Regions from separate parts of the Homo sapiens genome. Here region 1 is linked to region 2. Evidence: fine-mapped expression QTL. Tissue or cell type: whole blood. Region 2 holds a variant in brackets; the other region holds the start of a gene. All regions are shown on one strand. Distances are from middle to middle.

The links. PIP is the estimated chance that this variant, and not a neighbour inherited with it, causes the effect.
Region 1: it holds the start of DYSF, and the variant in region 2 is fine-mapped to the expression of DYSF in whole blood (TOPMed, PIP 0.93).

Annotation. Positions count from the first base shown.
Region 1 is chr2:71,461,558-71,471,471 of GRCh38, reverse strand. It overlaps DYSF (dysferlin), which reads right to left and starts at 4,773. Exons shown (of 56, transcript NM_001130987.2): 1 at 4,539-4,773. The coding sequence starts at 4,629.
Region 2 is chr2:71,517,725-71,527,638 of GRCh38, reverse strand. It overlaps DYSF (dysferlin), which reads right to left. Exons shown (of 56, transcript NM_001130987.2): 11 at 7,431-7,461; 12 at 6,735-6,850; 13 at 1,293-1,419. Among named protein-coding and RNA genes, the nearest start is that of DYSF, 56 kb to the right of the region's middle. The variant A/G (reference allele first, on the strand shown) is at 4,561.

The DNA.
Region 1 (9,914 bases), 56 kb after region 2:
CCTCCCCTTGCACTGTGGAATGTCTAGCAGCATCCTCAGCCTCTACCCTGTAGATAAACACCCTGTGCCCCCAACCCCTGTGGCAACAACCCAAAATGTCTCCAGACATTGGCAAATGTCATCTGAGGAAAAAACTGCCCCCAGTTGAGAACTACTGTATTAAATCATATATTTATATCTTCTGCACTTTCCTTGTATGTTAAATTTTATAACTAAAATTTTTAAGAAAAAAAATCTTGGAGGAAATGTGTCAAATTGTTAACAAGTTAATTCAAAGTGGCAGGATTTGGGGCTATTTTTTACTCTTGCCTCATGGCCTTTCTGTAGTTTGTCATTTTTAACAGCAAGTACATATTATGTTTATAAAAAGAAAACAGGCTAGGCGGGGTGGCTGACACCTGTAATCCAAGCACTTTGGGAGGCCAAGGTGGGTGGATTGACTGATGTCAGGAGTTTGAGACCAGCCTGGGCAACATGGTGAAACCCCATCTCTACTAAAAATAAAAATAAAAATTAGCCAGGCATGGTTGCAGGTGCCTGTAATCCCAGCTACTCGGGAGGCTGAGGCAGGAGAATCACTCGAACCTGGGAGGCGGCGGTTGCAATGAGCCGACAACGTGCCATTGCACTCCAGCCTGGGTAATAAGAGTGAAAGTCCATTTCAAAAAAAAAAAAGAAGGAAGGAATGAAGGAAGGAAGGAAGGAAGGAAGGAAGGAAGGAAGGAAGGAAGGAAAGAAGGAAGGAAGGAAAGAAGGAAGAGAAGAGAAAGCTCTTTTCTTTTTTTTTTTTTTTTTTTTGAGATGGAGTCTCACTCTGTCACCCAGGCTGGAGTGCAGTGGCTCAATCTTGGCTCACTGCAACCTCCGTCTCCTGGGTTCATGCCATTCTCCTGCCTCAGCCTCCCGAGTAGCTGGGACTACAGGCACCCACCACCACACCCGGCTAATTTTTTTTGTATTTTTAGTAGAGACAGGGTTTCACCATGTTAGCCAGGATTGTCTCGATCTCCTGACCTCATGATCCACCCGCCTTGGCCTCCCAAATTGCTGGGATTACAGGCGTGAGCCACCACGCCTGGCCGCTGTTTTCAATATTTTAAGTCATTTGTAATATGTAAACAGCTAGGTTCAGAGAGTCCGGGGCCTTCAGCCCACTTTCCCTACATAGGTGAGTTAAGAGTGTTCCCTGACGACAGGAATCCACCTCCAACTAGTTCTATAAGATCCCCCAACTCCTGCCCCAAATCTAGAGACCCCCAGGAGATCAAGAAGAGAAGAGGTGGGAGGGGGAGGCTGGAGGAGGAGACGCCCTGACAGGATGAGAGAGAGGGAAGTGTCAGTAATGACTTCTGGGTTCCTGGCTGATGACACAGGGCAGAAATTCACCAAGTGGGGACGCAGCAGATCTGGCCTTCAAGGAAATAAGATGTTTCAGCTTTAAAGCAGTAGGGATCTGGTTTTGTTCTTGTATGCATCCAAGCACCTAGAAAAGCACCAGGCACGTAGTAGGTACTCAGTAAATATTTGTTCAATGAACTAACTGCATGAATAGAGGGATATAAATAATCACATTAAGGAATGGAAAATGGGCAGGGCAGAAAAGAAGTACAGACAATTAAATGCTATAGGAAATTAAGCTGCTCGTTGACACAATCAGTCAAAAATATCTACTATGGCCCAGTTACTCATGGTAGTTTTAGTTAATGAATTAATTAATAGAAAAACAAAAGAATGAGAAGTATTCATTAGTAGCCTCTACTATTAATAGAGGTGCTTAGACAGGGAAGCCAAAAAATTGCCCTCAGAGTCCAGCCTCCCAGAGCTCATAGTCTATTTTGGGAGGCAGGTCCTGAAATTACATCCGAGACAGGGAACAACTGCAAGGAAAGTGGGGCCAGCCCAGCCCCATACATTTCAGGCTGCCTGTAGGAGCCAAACACACAGTGCAGGCTGGCTTCTCTGCAAGCAGGCCACTGTCCCATCTGTGCCATGAGGAGCTGGGCTCAGTGGTTCTCAACCCTGACTGCACATTCAAAACACCTGGAAATTTGACAGAAACAACACCTATGCCTGGGGCCCCACCGGAAGGGATCTGGCTTCAGAAAAGGCAGGCAGGGAGGTTGGCAGTGGTCTTTGGTGAAGCTCCCACACACAATGTTGACCTGCAGCCAGAGTTGAGTCCCCCCAGCCTACATGCTCTGTAAGTTCTGAACCTGGTTCTAACGGTTTCCCTCCTTAGGCATCAACTCAGCCCCAAACTCCCCAGTGAATGCTCCCGCAATGGGGAGCGCATTAATTTCACCTGCCATCACATCTCAGACCCATTTTTCCCAAGATGCGGTTCCAAAATAACCTGCATCGGGTATTTGTTAAGTGCTGATTCTTAGGTCACCTTCCAGACCTGCTGCATCGGAACCTCTACAGATGGGGACTCTGGAATCTGTTTCTCAAACACGTTCTACAAGTGATTCTCAGGAACAATCAAGTGAGCGGACCATGTCCCAGACTAAATGAAGCTCCCAGGCACACCTGGAGGATGGCTAGAGGCTGGGCCAGAAAGCGCACAAACACTAGAGAGCACCTACTTGTGCTCAGCACTGGGACAAACCAATGAACAAATAGGACAGGTCACTGCTCTCAAGGCACCTAAGCATGGAGCTGAGCACAGGCCAGTCAGGGCGAGGGTGCTAGCATCCCTAGCAAGGTGCTGCTGCTTGTCATCCAGAGAGGAGAGACTCTTGAGAGCCAGGGGGATCCAGGGTGTCCTCCTGGAGAAGGTGGCATTGCCCTGGGCTTTGAAATACAAATAGACTTGAAACGGTTGGAGATGTTACATTCTATTGTATGGTATTTCTGTTTTCCGAGGAGATCATCAGTGCAAATAAATAGTAAGGCATTACAAAGAAGGAATACAGAGATCTGGGGGGAGATAGCAGCTGCACGTGTTCGGGGTACTTGGGCGAGGGCAATAGTAAAGAGGGGCCTCAAGGGATTTGGTCATCTTCCCGACTCAAGGGCAATACCCACTCCAAGCGCTGGTAGCTCCCTGCCATGACCACTGACCTGAACACATTTAACTTCCCTGGGTTTCAATTTCCTTATTTGCAGAATGGAGACATTGGTAGCCACCACAGGACTGTTACAGGACAAGGGAAAGAGCTGTGAGCAGACCCAAACGAGTGTTAGAGCATCCAGAGCCCTATGCTAATGTGTGCCCTGCCCAGTGTCCTTAGGGAATTTCTTTTCCAGCCAATGGTGACACCGCAATTTCTGCATAGCAAAGCCTTAGGCAGCATCAGGTGGACACTGGAGAAGGAAAGACTTTGTCTTGAAGTTGCTCTTGCATAGTGAACTCCCAGGCATGTCACCAATCAATGAAAATAGTGAAATTTTCTTAAACGTTTCAAATCACATCTTTCAAAAGAGGAATACATATAACTTGTCCCACAGCAAAGAATAAAAGCTACACATAAATCTCCCTTTGCCAAATCATGTCTTTCATCTATCATTATCTTGGGGGTGCTTGGAGATATGATTCAGATCATGGGTCAGACTGAAAAGAGTTCCCTTGGTGCCTGCACTGAAGGAGGCTTATGAAAACACCAGCTACTCTTCCTTCTTCATTTGACTATCTTTTCTGATACGTAGATTTTTATTATTATTATTATCGATTCCACAAAGCTACAGGGTATGGCTCCTGGCTAAGTGGAAACCCTCTTTCCTCTCCTGATTTATCTTTCTCTGCAGAACTGGGGTCCTGACTCACAGCTATTGTTCCTTCTCTTAATTTTGACAGATCCTTCCTCTTCCCTTTCCCCTCCTGAGACACCCGCTCCAGTGGGAATCTGCCTTGGAGGGGTTGGGGGAGGGGGTTCAGGACGCCTGGTGAGAAGAGGAGTGTGTGTGTGATTTCTCTGCTGCCCCACACAGAAATACCTGTATGTATTCTAAGCACTACATGTAGGGACTTAGCTTCTTGAATTTAGAGAAAATATCCTTGACATTCCTCAAAACTCCTTGTGTCAAGGCCATTTCCATCCTATTCTGTTCCTTTTCCTACTGATTAAGACGGGGCAGATTCAATACAGCCAATGTTGGATAAAGATGGGTGAATGAATGAATGAATGAATGAAAAAAGACACAACTTTCAAAGCACATCATCTACACGCCCCGTTTTTCAGAGGCCCTGATTCCTCTCTACCTTCTGCACCCATCTTCCAACTTACCCTTATCCCCACTACCCAGTAAAAGCTCGGACTTTATTTCCTCTGGGTGTCAGTCTTAGAAAAGTGATAACCGCTGACCTACGGCACTTTCGCTTTTCCAATTTTTCAAAGCCCTGTGGCATTTATTGTGCTCTGCTTATTCCTCATCGCCCCCCTGCAGAAGTCGGGGCTGGGATTTCCGTCCCTGCTGACAAAGGGAGAAACTGTGGCCTGGACTAGGGTTAGCTCCGGAGCAGGGGCTTCAGACCCGCCAGTGAGCGCCGAGAGTCGGGTAGCACCCGAGCATGGGCGCGGCAGCCACGGGGCTCTCACCTCGGAAAGTCAGGCTTGCGACAGGGTCGCTGCGCCGGTCCTTCTTCGCACTGGGGAGGTTGCTGGCCCTCACCAGCAGGCAGCACAGCATGGCTGGGCAGCCCCGGCGGCACACAGGCGCGCAGTCAGGGCGGGAGCGGGAGCACCGGGCCCGAGCACCCACCCAGCAAGCGCCCGGCTCCCAGGCAGCCGCGCCAAGAGAGCTGTCGCCTTCGCTGCTCCTCCGCGGAGAAGTGACCAATGCCTGGGAGAGGCTGCAGGGAGGACACCGGACACCCGCTGGGCGGACCCTCCCCCTCCGGCCCCTACCCAGATCCGCCCTGCCCGCGGCGGGCGGGGAGGGACAGGGGTCAGACGGGCGCCTGTGGGGGTGCTGGTCCCTAGCTCCGCGGGTCCCAGCTCCCGGCCAGGAACGAGGCGCCGCTGACGCGGGCGCGCAGCTCGGCCTCCGAGAGCGCACAAGGCGCCGTGGGGCCTGCTCCGCGGGGGCCTCCGGTGACCAAGGCTCCACACCAGCCAGGGATCCCGGGCCCGGTGCGCACCGGTGCCGACTTGGCAGCCGCCCTGTGCGCTCGACGAAAGGGTGAGAAGGAGGCAGGAGTGCAGGCGGAAGGAGTGGGCAATCAGCGGCGGGGACGAGAGTGTGTCTTCGGGGAAACCAAGTCTGAGTGAGCGCTGAAGGGGGAGTGTGCGGAGCGTGCCGTGCACCCCGAGCCCCCCGCCTCATTGCCTCTCGCCTCTCTCCACCTGCCCCATGATCTGCGCCAGGGAGCCGGTCCTCTCCCGTCCGCAGGCTGTCTAGGTGGCCGTTCTGGTTTGCTGGGACCCCCGGGTCGGGAGAGACTCCGAGGTTCGAGTCCCCACCAACCCTCCTCGGAGCCTTCTCCGCAGCGGTGTCGAGTCACTCATCTCTGGAGGCAGAGATCTGTATTCAAATCATACTGCGTTCCCTGGAGAACTAGGGTCCAGCTGCGGCCCATTCTGTCCCCTGCAAGTCCCCCATCCCCAACAATCTCTACACTCCCTAGTCTCCACAGTGGAAAGCTGTTCAAGGTGTAAGCCATGAACGGTGACAGTCGTTTCGCTTATTATGTCTGGTTCCTTTCCAGCGTATGAACTTCTTGACACAGGGGCCCTGGCTTCGCACTTCTATCCCCCAGCACTCCAGCACCTAGCCCCTGTCAGGGCACTGTCCGTCTTCCCACCGCCCAAGTCCTCACTAACCAACCTGCTCACTCAGCCTAAACGCACTGCTGCGCAAAATCTCAACTCCCTTTCCCCTCTCTTATTTTGAGGGATACAGCATTCTCACAGGGCTAAGCCATAACCCTGGCGAATCCAACTCCGCCTCCTCCACACCTGCCCCCAACCAGTGCTGTGTTGGAGAGTAACACAGCCGGCCTGAGTGGTGCCTTTTGTAGTCATGACCCTTAACTCAAGCGAGCCCTCACTGCTGGGGGCAATCATACTATATGTCTTGTCTCCCTGTCTCCCGGATGCCCCTAGGACACCCCATCGCCCAACCTCACTCTCAGTTTGCTTCCTCTTTACGGAGCAGAGAACTTCTTCAGGTCCCCAGTCTCCTTCTAACGCCCGCCCTCGGCATCTGTGCCCAAATCCTGTGAGTTCTCTCCTGTTCCTACAAATGAATCACCCGTACTCCCCACTGGTAACAACTGGACACTTGGGCATAGACCCCATCCCCTCTCGCCCATTCAGTGGTGAGCCTGCAGTGATTCTCTCACTCTCTTGCCTTACCAAGTTCCCCTGTTTACCGGATCATCCCATCGGCACACAAGCATGATGTTATTGCTCTCAAGAAAGCACACCGTTGACCCCACATCCCCTTCAGCTACTGGTCATTTCTCCCTTTTCACAACAATGCCCTTTGAAGGAGCTCTCCATACTTTCTGTCTCCAATCTCCCTCCTCCATTCTCTCTTGAACCCACCCAGTGACACCTTCAACCCCACCAGGTCACCAAAACTGCAAATCCCCCTCCCACTCTCCTTCAAAATATGTCCAAAATCCCACCATATCTCACCATCTCCATTGTAACTGCCCCCAGTGGAAGCCTGTCATCCCTTGCCTGAGTCATTTAATCGACTCCATGGACTCCCAATGCGTCTCCTGCTCTGCCCTTGTCCCCATGGTCTATCCTCAATTCAATTCTCATGACCTGGTTCTACTCAAAGTCTTCCGTTGGCTCCCATCTCACTCAGTGCAAAACTCAAAGGCCTTACGTGACCTTGAAAGCCCTGGCTGACCTCGCTGACCTCCTCTCCAGCCACTCTCCCCTTACGTGACCTTGAAAGCCCTGGCTGACCTCTCTGACCTCCCCAGGACCCATGCTAGCCTTCCAGCTGTTCCCCAGACAGGCCAGACCAGCGCCTCCCCAGGGTCTCTGTCAGCTGTTCCCTCTGGCTGGCATGTCTTCCTTTCCTTCAGATATCAACTCCAGTGAGACCAACCCGGCCACACAACTGAACACCACAACTTTCCCTCTTTCATCTCCCTTTCAGGCTTCTTCTCTAGCACCAATCACTGTATAGCACATGTGTCTTAATTGTTTTCTGTCTTCCCCATCAGAATGTCTGCTCCAAGGAGCCAGGGGTTTTTGTCTGTTTTGTCCACTGCTGTTTCCTCAGTGCCTGAAACAGCACCTGGTGCAAAGCATGGTCTCCATAAATTCTTTCTAAATGATGGACTGAAAGAATAAACATTCACCCATCACCTCTGACTTGCTGGGAATAAGTCACATCCCTGCCCTCAGGGAGCTTCCAGTCAAGGGGTAGAGACCACAGAGGGTGGCAACCACATCTACAGCTCCCAAGAAGTGGAAGGTCGGTAAAGGACAGAGCTAGGATGAGCATGGGGGTGGGGAAAAGGAAAGAGAGGAGAGTCTGAGCCTGTTCTCATCACAACGCCTTCTCTAGCTGCTTGGACCCTTGCTGCTTCCTCCCAGCTCTACCCTTCTCTTCTCCCCTCAAGATGAGGCGGACATTTGATTCCCTCAACATCCATCCAGACCCCCTTCCCTTCTAGCAGAACCTGACTGCTCAGTTATGCAGCCCCAGCTCCAGGATGGATCCCACTCTATCTGAGCATATTTCTTGGCAACGGCTATTGGTCTAGCTAGAGGTATGTGTCCTAAGTTGTTCCCCTGGAAAGACAGATTTATATGCCATGAATAGAGAAGCCCAACTCCCTCTCCTGCTTTGTGTGCATAAGGAAGCTTGCAGATCCAATTGCTGACCAGTTGAGGACATAGCAGACATCATGGACAGCAGATCAGAGAGAAACATGGAGCCTGCCTGGGTACAGGATGATACTATGGAGTTGCTGGCAGCAGCGGCCCATCTGGAGTGGCCACTGCCAAGACGTGGGCTGCAGTGGAGAGTCTGGCCAGTGTTGTGCACTCTGCAGAGCCGGTGGGGGCTGGGAACAGGTGGGAGCCCCGCCCCCTACCAAGTTGGTGGGGTGGGAGCCCCAAGCTCCCAGGCACAGCTGCAGCCGTTTGGCTGCGGCCCCAGATCCAGGCATCCCTGCACTCTCTGGGGCCCAGGAAGCTTGCAGGCTCAGAAGTGCCTTCGCCCCATCTCTGGCCTCTCCCAACTCCAGTCACCCACTCCAGGGTGGAGCAAAGTTGTGTCCAAGCCCACATGCTGTTGCAACCCAGCCAGATGTGTGCACACTTGTGGTGGCACTGAGATGCCAGCCCCCTGCTGCCTCAACCCCCTCCAGACTTTGAGCACTGACAAGCTCAGGAGGGAAGCTGAGGGGTAGCTCCACCTGGAACTGCAAGCACCCCTCTGCATGAACAGCCTAGGTGCCCTAGACGACATGTTGATGGCAGCAGGAGGCAGACAGGCTCCTGGGCAGAAAGGGGTGGGTCCTCAGTGAAACCCCACCTACAAGCCAGGGATGGCCTGAAGCCTGGGGGCTGGGCTGCCAGTTCCAGGTGGAGTCCTCAGCCCAGAGTGAGAACTTATGGTGCTTTTTCCCCCAGCCTGCTCCTGGTCACCCATGGACCAAACAGCACACACTTCCTCCCTTCTGAGCCCATAAAATCCCAGGACTCAGCTAGACTCAGACAGATGTTGGGACTACCAGGTACAGGAAGGAACTACCCACTCCAGGTCAGGTCTCCTCCACTTGTCGGGAAGACCTGCCTGCGGTGACGAGCTACCCTATGTGGGTCTCCTCTCTGCTGAAAGCTAGACACTTATCAGGAGGACCTGCCTGCAGAAAGGAACTACCCACTTCGGGTTTCCTGAGAGCTGTTCTGTCACTCAGTGAAGCTCTCTCCACCTTGCTCACCATCCAGTTGTCTGTGTACCTATTCTTCCTGGACATAGGACAAGGACCCAGGACCCACTGAACAGCAGGACTGAAAGAGCTGTAAGACAAACAAGGCTGAAACAGCCTGCCCCCCACCCCAACCCTGCTCGCCATGTTGCAGGCAACGAGAACGAGATAAAGCTTCAGCACTTTGGGGAGCCCAGACCTAGGGGTGACATGGCTGTGACACCCTCTTTGGGGCTCTGCAGTTCCTGGTGCCTCCAAGCTTCTGGGCACCACCACATTCCCCAGTAGCCACAGTGGAAGCCCCTTCCAGTATGCCTGGCCCAGCCGCAGCCTGGCACAGAGCCAGTGCCTGTACCAGCACCTGGAGCTGCCTGCCCCACCACAGCTGGCATGCCTGGCTGTGCGCAGTGGCTGGACCCTGCACTCACTCACACACCCCTTGCTGTTCAGTGCCTGGCTCGCCCTTCGCAGGCGTGGGATCAGGGCTGGTACTGAGAGCTGAGCACAGCCTGCCAGGCTGAGTGGGCAGAAGGAGCCCAGTGGGCCCAAGCAAAATTCAGGCAAAGGTGCTACCAGCCACAGAGGTTTCCAGCTGGAAAAAGCAACACCCTTAGGATCCTGTGACAGAGTTGTATAGTCTATATGCCCAGAGCTCACTGGGTCTCTGGACACCAGTTAAGTGAGCTGATCCCCTTAAGACTACTTAGCATTTAATAAATTGATTTTCCCAAGGCTTAAACATGGGGTGTCCAGGAGGCAAACAAACCTTGCCTCTCTGCTCATTTAAGTCTATTTAAGCCAGGATTTCAGTTGCTTGCAGCCTAAATCATCCTTACTGACCCCTGTGACTTTGGTACCATCTGTGTGCCCACAGCATCCAAGTGACTCCACCAAGTCTTACCACCACCCTCTCCTGCCCAGGCCACTGCAGGTGCCTCCTAGCTGGTCAGTCGCCTCATCACATCATCACTCTGGCTATGTCTGACCCATTATCCACACTGCAGCCAGGTGATCTTAAATATGATCAGGTCAATCTCCTGCTAAAAGCCTCTTGGGAGGTTTATCCAAA
Region 2 (9,914 bases):
AATTAGCAAACATTTATGATCTGTTTGCCCATCTATTTTGTTTTTTTCAAACAACGTTGCAGGGAATTCAACACAAAGCTCTTTCACCTTAAGAAAAGCAAACATTTCTATTTCCCCATGCCCCTCTTGAAGTTCACCAGCCTCACTTCTAGTTGCAATCAATAAGTGCAGAATATTTTTAAGCATGTGTTTTAGTACTGAATTAATACCCATTACTTATTTACAGGCTTTCTTCAGGATTTGATCTAAGTAAGCTTGTACATTTCATTTCTTGACGTCAGCAGCCGAAGCAGAAACTCTCAAATAGTTACCTTTATGGAAAAGTTGTAACCAGGGACCCAAGTTGCAAACCTTCTCACTGACTCTGCTGTGGACAGTGGCTTGGTTGTGTTAATGCATGCTTTAAAATAGTGGCTCACAGCGGGGCCTCACCACAGAACAACCTGGGGAGCCTTTAAACCCTACCAATGCTGAGCCCTGCCCTAACTCGAGTCAATCTAAAACGCTGGAGGTGGGGCCCCGGCATTTGGACCGTTTTGAATCTTCCCAGGGAATTCTACTATCAGCCCAGGTTGATAACCAGAGCTCTAGAATATTCGGTATAACTCCCCAGCATTTACTAAACACACAGATGGGTCTAGTATCGGGCCAACCACTGTGAGAAACCAGGCAGTGGCCACATTGGCCTTCCTGGGAGGAAGAGATGGTTGCAAGTCGGGTGCCCACTGTCCCAGTTTGCTGGAGACTGCAGGGTTTCCTGGAACAGGCACTTTCAGTGCTAAAACCAGGACAGTCTCAGGCAAGCTAGGATGGTGGGTCACCTTGTGGATCTGTGTCCTTCATCTGTGAAGACAGTGGGGCCCAGGAGTCCTTCATGCAAACCCTTCCAACATTAGAGCAACTGCTCCCCAGCCCAGCTCTGCCACTAGCAGGACGGGCTTCCTCACAGAGGGAGGGAAAATCAGTGAGAGCCAGCCCTAAGGCCAGAATAGAGTCCAGATGGTGCTGACTTCTCAATGAGAACTAAGAAAATGGGTCCACAGAGTGGCCAAATATTGCCAGACCAGGCCCAGAGGACATTGGAATGGAGCTGAGAGGCAGCTATTACTCTCAAGAGTTCTTGAATCTTTGTAACTCCACCAGCACTGATTACTTTTCGTTAAATTCTGATTGTTTTCCTAGACGCCTCTCCTTCCCCCAGGGAGCTGACCCCGCCCGCCATCGCCCACCCCCACCAGCCCTGCGCCTCCAGCCTCCTGCAGACCTCCCACCCAAGGGCGCGCCCCACGCACTCTGCGGCAAGTCCTCGGCCCGGAAGACCTTCAGGCAGAAGTGGGCTCCTCGCAGGGCTACGCCTGTGGGCCGGAGCAGGTTGCTTTCAATGTCCTCCTTGTCTTCAGAGGGGTCTTTTCTCTCCAGCTACAAAGAAAACCAAATACGATTCCTTCATGCGCTCCTGAGCACAGGGTTTTACTTTCCTTTTCTAAGAGTTCCAGCTTCGCCACATAAATGCTGCATTCTGCAGTAAGGCAGACTGCGCTCCGACACTTACTACCGCGTGGTCTCGGGCAAGGTCCTTCACCTGAGCCTCAGCTTCCTCTTGAGTACAGCAGAGACCATGATACTGACCTTCCAGGACTGTGCGAGGAACATCTCCAGTAATGATGTAAATGCACGTGGCACACAGCAAGCATTCCACCAACCTCAGTCTCCTTCCCGCTCTCCCCCACCTCCCGGTTAAAACATAGTACAGTAGTAACTGAGGTCTAAGCTGGCCACTCTGTCTTTAATAACATGCAGGTGTTCATTCACCCAGCCATTAGCTACTGAGTGAGTACTAGGTGTCTGTATGGTGCTGAAGGGCAGGGGATATGGCAATGAATAAGGGGATGACATGAATAAGCACCCTGTTCCCATGGAGCTGACTATCATGCAGGGAAAACACTTTCAGCAAACGAATCCAATAACATGTACTGTGTCTTGTGGTTGGAACAGTAATAACAAAAATCACATCCCACATGCATTGATGTGTATGCACTCTCTCATTTAATCCTCATAGCACCCCTCCCTTGAATGGGTCTCAAACTTGGCGGCACATTAGAAACACCTGGGGAAGCCTGGGCGCCGTGGCTCGCACCTGTAATCCTAGCACTCTGGGAGGCCGAGGCAGGCGGATCACCTGAGGTCAGGAGTTCAAGACCAGCTCGCTAACATGGGGAAACCCTGTCTCTACCAAATAATACAAAAATTAGCCAGGCATGGTGGCATGCACCTGTAGTCCCAGCTACTCAGAGGCTGAGATGGGAGAATTGCTTGAACCTGGGAAGCAGAGGTTGCAGTGAGCCAAGATTGCACCACTGCACTCCAGCCTGGGCAACAAAGTGAGACCGCCCCCCGCCCCCACCATCTCAAAAACAAAAAAGGAAAAGAAAAGACTCACCTGGGAAACCCAGGTCACACCCTAGACCAATTAAAACAGAATTTCTGGGAGAGAGTACCCATGCAGCAGTGGCTTGTAAAGCTTCCCAGATGATTCCAACTAGCAACAGAGGCTGAGAATCAATGTCTTCTAGACCACTGCTGTGCATTCCAATTAAAATGCAGGTTCTAGTTCAGCAGGTGTGGGGTGGGGCCCAAGATTCTGCATTTCAAAAAGTGTCCAAGTGATGCCCACGCTGCTTGCCCACAGATGTTGCTCTGGGTGTAAGACCTAGAATGCCCCCACTTTACAGATAAGAAAGCTGAGGTGTAACACAGGCTGGAAGCAGAACCCACGTGCTTGGAGAGCACAGAGCAAGGGGGCTTGTAACTATACTGAGGTGGGGTCAGAAATGCTTCCCAGCTTGAGACCTGGATGATGAGCAACAGGTGGAGGCATCCAGACGAGGAGGCAACTCATGCAGAGGCCCTTGCACATGGGGAAGTCGGCAGCTGGAGGAACAGACAAAAGATCTGGTGGCTGCTCTTGGGCTAGCGAGCAGCGAAGGGACAGGAGAATAGCAAGGTCAGGCTGTGCCCAGCAGCCAACTCCTTGGACAGTTGCCTGGACTAGCCTCACCCCATTTCTCACTCAGTCACACTTGACACGTAGAAACCTGCTTCAGGATCCTTGCTGCAAAACCCTCAATCCCAGAATGCCCATATCACAGCATGCCCAAAGGGATGTGTTCTGCGTTTATTCTCCTCAGCTCATATCAGAAGAAAACAATCATCTTTCAGGCATCCATAAAAATGTCTATTCCCCTAGACAATAAGCACTGACTGAGCACCTACTGTGTACAAGACCTGCCGTACTAGGCAAGAGGGGAGATAAAAGATATCACATTTGCTATATTGTCCCCATCATCAAGAAACTGAATCTCAGTGATGAAGACAGACACATAAACTGATTAGACTACCAAAGGGCTGGGTGGTGGCCCAAAGGAAAGACCAATACATTTTCCTGGAAGACGAGGCAAGCTTCAGGGAGGAAGTAGCATCTGAACTGGGTCTGGAAGAACAAATTGGCTCTTGGTAGGCAAAGAGAGGGAAGGCATTCCAGCAGGGGAAAAGGCTAGAGAGGGATGGAAGAGCATTCTGGAAAGAGTCACATCATCTGGTGTGGCCACAGACGGGGCCCATGAAGATACATAACAGCAAGTGGGATTGGGAAACTAGGCTGAGGGCAAATGTCAAGGGCCTTGAATGTCATGCTAAGGATCTTGGACTCTATCCTAAAAGCAGTGGGAAGTCACTGGAGGTTTTGTAAGAGGAGACACGCGTGATTCTACCTGGGTTTAAAAGTGATGACTGGCGGCCAGGCGCAGTGGCTCACGCCTGTAATTTCAGCACTTTGGGAGGCCGAGGCGAGTGGATCACAAGGTCAGGAGTTTGAGACCAGCCTGACCAACATGGTGAAACCCCGTCTCTACTAAAAATACAAAAATTAGCTGGATATGGTGGCGCACGCTTGTAATCCCAGCTACTCAGGAGGCTGAGGCAGGAGAATCACTTGAACTCGGGAGGCGGAGGTTGCAGTGAGCCGAGATTGCACCATGGCACTCCAGCCTGGGTGACAGAGCAAGATTCTTTCTCAAAAAAAAAAAAAAAAAAAAAGATGACTGGTGATAAGGTGGGGATAGGTGAAGTATAACGTAAGAAGTTAGGAGACCTCAGAGGACACTTAGGATGGATGGCAGAGACTGCTAGTTGTTCCCCCAAATCCAGTCTTTTCTGCCTCCCCTAACAAACCCTCAATTTTTAGCTGGACAGCATTAGGATGGACTTTATTTCCCAGGCTCCCTCGTAGTTAGATGTGGCCATGTGACTAAGTTCTTGTCAATGGGACCTAAGCATAAATGTGTACAACTTCTGGATCATGCCTTTGAAGGAAGAGATGTGGCCTCCATTGTCCTTTACTCCCATTTCCCTGGCTGGAATACAGACATGGTGATGGGAACTGGAGCAACCATCTTGGGCCATGTGACGGAGGCTGCATGATGATCACAGTGGAGAAAAGACCAGGAGCCTGGGTCTCTGATCATTGCCGAAGCACTGTGCCAATTCTGGACTGTGGCATTC[A/G]TGAGAGAGAAATAAACCTCTGTCCTCCTTAATGCCTATTATTTGGGGCATCTTTGTTACACCAGCTGAACCTATATTGTAATTCACAAAGAGACCCAAGTGAGAGAGAGTGGGAGCTGGACCTCAAACTCCTGTCTTGGGATGGGAAAAAGAAGAGGCGTACACTGAGGTTTTCCACCAACAAGACTGGCCAACTGCTTGCATGGGGATTGAGGGGTAAAGAATGAAACTCTGGCCTCTGGTTTGGGGGACTAAGTGGATAATCATGCAATTTCCTAAGATGTCACCTAATACGGGATGGGGAACAGGTGTGGGGAGTGGGCAGCAAATGATACAGGCTTTGCTATAATAAGTTAGATTTACTATAATAAGTTAGAGGGGCCTAAGGGACATGTTAATGTGGCCTGATGACAAGGCAACTGAAACTGAGCGTCCAGAGCTCAGAAGATCCAGGCTGGAGAAGAGCAATTTACAAGTCTCAGGTGGTGTCTGAAAGAGACGGACTCCTCAACAGTGACGGGCAGGACACAGCAAGGGAACAGGGACTGAACTGCAACATCGAATTTGAAGAACCCACTGGAAAAGGAGCAAGGAGAGTCATGAATACTAAGGGAGGAGACAGTTTCAAATAAGGCGTGGGCTCCAGAATCGAACGCTATGGAGCAGTGGTGCAGTCTAACAACAGAGGAGAGCTCCTAAGCTATGGTAATGAGTGACCCTTACACCAGTGGCTTCAGGGAGGGGAGGTGGTGGGATTCCTACTGAAGAGGAGAAGGAATGAGCAGCTGGCAATGGAGTGGAAAAAGGGGGATGCAGTGCACCCTTTCAAAAGTTGGTGATGACCAGCAGTAGGAGAGAGAGAAAATAGTAGTGGAGAGGAGGGGTGGGGAGAAATGGGTCAAGGAAGGGGTGTTTTAGGATGGGGAAATCTTGAGCCTGGTACAGATCATGGAGAAGGAGGCAGAGGAGACAAGTGTGAGAAGAGACCAGAAAGAGGAGGCTAAAGAAGACAGTGGAGGATGTGAAGTCATGGCCAAGGAGGTGGTGGGATAATGCAGCGGGAGGGGCGGAGGAAGGGAGGGAAGGTGGATGAAGATGGGGGGCAAGTTGAGGACCACAGGAGCTCCCAGAGCTCTCACCACTCATCGCTGTGCAGCTCTGCCTCTCCAAGGGAAGCTGAGGTTGGAGCTTAGGAAAGGGAAGAAAGTCTGGGAACAGCCAGGAGAGATAAGGAGTAAGGAGATGAGGAGAATTAGATAAGGAGTAAACTATACCCAGGTAAAGGAAGAGGCGGACAGCACCCGGGGCCCAGCTAAGTGGAGAAGTAGAAACCCACATTCATCCAAGCAGCACGTCCAGGTGGCCAAGGAGCCAGTGTGTGGTGAGGATGGGGGAGACACGAGGCATGGCAGGAGACCCCAGGGGCCCTGTCCTCCTCTCCCTCCCTGCACAAAGCCATCAGCCATATTCAGGTACCTCACCCCTGACCTTCACCTCACCCCTGACCTTCAGCACTCCTGGCTTGCCCTCACCCAACACGTCCACCACCCACCTGCCTCTCTTCTGCTTCTGCGCTGCTGAGCACCATGAGGCAAGTGGCTCCACTACAAACAAAGCGTCCAACCCAGAGTGGGTGCTCTGGTGTTTGTACAGAAATCCTTTCATTAAATCTAACCCCTCACTCCTCTCCCACAAAGATGATTCCAAACCTTTTCTCCTCTTCTCAAACATAGAAAGATGCAGATACCTCTCCTGCTCTCAACATTTTTCTCATTCTTACCACCTCCAACTTATAACTTTACTTACTGACATGTGGAGATGAGCATGATACATTCTTAGGCCATGAAATTCAAGTCACAATATAATATATATAGAATAATCTCACTGTTGCAAAAAGAAAATATGTGCATATATCCTTCCAGAGGGATGTGCAATGAGACAATAATAGCTCTCTCGGAGTGGTAGGATTATGAGTGATTCATTTTTTATTAATACCTTGCACCCAGAGCATTCATTTTTTATTAACACCTTTCTACATGTTCCACATTTCTCATTAATTACCACATATTAGTTTAAATCAGAAAAAAAAATAGAGTTTTTGTTTGTGGTTTGGTGCCTCCGCAACCAAGTGCCGCGTGGGGGACCGTAAGGAAGACCCAGGGAAATGTACTCACAGGCGCTTCGTCCCCAGGCCCCAGCACACAAAGGCTTGTTTTCAGGTAGCCTCTGGCCCCAGCAGAGAAGTCATCAGGGTCTGAGAGCAGCAGCCACTTCCTGAGATAGGCGTGCCCTAAGAGAGACAACATCCTCTGGTGATCCCAGAATCAGAAGACCCCAGGCTGTGGCCACATCCGGGAACCCAGGATGGACTGCACAGGGGAGGTAAAGGACTCATCCGCTGGGCCATGAGCTCAGGACTCAGATTCTAGAATCAAAAGGTACTTTGAGTGTTCATGTGGTCAGAGTCAGAAATATTAACAGAAACGCCTGTAAGAGGCTGGCAGAGCCAAACCCAAGGCATTTTCCTCCCCTTCAGGAAGTGACCAGATCAGAATGGAAACCAGGGTGAGGAGAAATCCTGGCTTGTCACCCAAATGACCTGTCCCTGTCTGCCGTGAGCCCAGTGTCCAGTAATGGGGCCTTTCAGATCTAGCCTCCCTGAATGGGCCAACGGAGACACAGGTGAGTGTTACACCCTCCCGAGGGCCTGTCTCACATGGAGGATGAATGACCTGCTTTCTCTCCCAAGATCAAACCCTTCCTCTAGATTCTAAAACCCCCAGGAGGGACAGTGAGGACCCCAAATGAGTGTCCCCAATCAGCCTCCAGAACCAAAATGCAAGGATACGGCCAAAGTGGTGAGAACTCACGGGGCTCTCTGTAAATGGTGCCCACGTCCATCTGCAATCAATGAGAGGAGACACAAATCAAACTCTTGCCGCCAAAGCGTTAAATAAAGTGTGGTGCATTATATGATTCCATTAAAAACCATGTTTTTGAAGAACATTTGGAAACACAGGCAGTCAACATTTGATACTACATGAAAAGAAAATGAAATATATTTTGATCCCAGTTTGATAAAGAATGCTTATGTACAGAAAAGAAAGAGGAAAGGAGGCTGGGCGTGGTGGCTCATGCCTGTAATCCCAGCACTTTGGGAGGCCAAGGCAGGTGGATCACTTGAAGTCAGGAGTTCGAGACCAGCCTGACCAACATGGTGAAACTCCATCTCTATTAAAAATACAAAAAAAAAAAAAAAAAAAAAAACTAGCCGGGTGTGGTGGTGCATGCCTGTAATTCCAGCTACTTGGGAAGCTGAGGCAAGAGAATCACTTGAACCCAGGAGTTGGAGGTTGCAGTGAGCCGAGATCATGCCATTGCAATCCAGCCTTGGCAACAAGAGCAAAAATCCGTCTCAAAAAAAAAAGAGGAAAGGAAATTCAACACAATAGGACTATGTTATCCCTGCATGGTAGATTTGGATTATTTTTATTTCATTTTTTATTCCTTCCTGTGTTTTACAATTTTCTATTAAAAATCCACAGATGATTGGGATGATGATAGTGGGGAAGGCTGCAGGGGGCAGCAGGGGCAGGGGGCAGGGAGTATATGGGAACTGTGTACATTCCACTTAATTTTTGCTGTGAACCTACAACAGTCTGTTTTAAAAAGTCGTCTTTTTTTTAAATCATAGATTACTTTTATAATTAGATACAAGTAAAATAATTTTTTGACTTAACCCTTGGGTTCTCAGAACAAGACTCAAAACATAATTAAGATTTAATTTGTTACAGAATGACTTGGGCTCAAGCTCATTCTTTTAAAAAATGCTTCTCCAGGTAAACAGACTTAGTTTTTTATCTTGTGACTTCTTCCCACAGGCAATGATTTGAGAAGACAGCGCAAAGACAAAGAAATCTCACCCACTGATCTAGCCATCAGGTCCAACCCAGTAATTTTTTTTTTTTTTTTTTTTTTTTTTTTTTGAGATGGAGTGTCGCTCTGTCATCCAGGCTGGAGTGCAATGGTGCGATCTTGGCTCACTGCAACCTCTGCCACCCAGGTTCAAGCGATTCTCCTGCCTCGGCCTCCTGAGTAGCTGGGATTACAGGCGCATACCACCATGCCCAGCTAATTTTTGTATTTTTAGTAGAGGCGGGGTTTTACCATGTTGGCCAGACTGGTCTTGAACTACTGACTTCAAGTGATCTGCCCACCTTGGCCTCCCAAAGCACTGGGATCACAGGCATGAGCCACTGCGCCTGGTCCCAGCAATTATTTATTGGGCAGAATAAATAATTCTAAGGTAACTTCTGACAACAGGCAGAACCAAGCCCCTTATTTTAAATTCATATTTAAAATACAAATTTAAAGAAGGAAGGCATGATATACTTGGATAGAGGGGAGAGGGGAAAATAAGCTTGTGCTCTTTCTTTCCTTTTGAGAAATCCTTGAAAATTTCAAAATGAGAAAATTAGTAACAATTACATCAAATTACATTAAAACACCATGCAGGCCAGGCACGGTGGCTCATGCCTGTAATCCCAACACTTTGGGAGGCCAAGGTAGCCAGATCACAAGGTCAGGAGTTCAAGACCAGACTGACCAAGATGGTGAAACCCCATCTGTACTAAAAATACCAAAAAAAAAAAAAAACTGCCAGGCGTGGTAGCACACGCCTCTAATCCCAGCTACTGGGGAGGCTGAGGCAGGAGAATCACTTGAATCTGGGAAGCAGAGGTTGCAGTGAGCTGAGATCACACCACTGCACTCCAGCCTGGGCGACAGAGCAAGACTCCATCTCAAAAAAAAAAAAAAAAAAATCATACAGGTCTCCTTTAGTCTGTGCAATTACTAGTTACCTTTACTTTACGTAATCTGTTAAATCCATTGGCTCTCGGTTCTCAGAAGAGGACTATTCACTTCTGGACTGTCTGGGACAAGTGAGGAGGCTGGGGCAGGGTTCCCCTCTCTCCACTGCCTCTCCCTCCCCCAGGGATCCATATCTGAACCCCACTCCCATCCCAGGGTGAGAGTGATGTCAGGGCAGAGAGCGCTGGGTCTCACTGGCCCAAGATGGCCAGGATGAGGAGGAGGGCTGCCCAAACTCAGATCTCACACGGCCTTCCCAGAGGTGGGGGAAAATCCAAATTACAAATAAGGGTCTTGATTCTGCTTGTTGGAAATAAGGGAAGAAGTACTTCCCTCCCCTCTCTTTTTGTCAGAACACTTACCTTAGAAAACTTGTAAATATATTACACTTTCCCTGTCTCTTTGAAATGCATCTTTTTAAGAAACTAAATAAGCCTTTTGTCAGCTTTAGTATACAAATATCATTCTCAGGACGTCTGAAA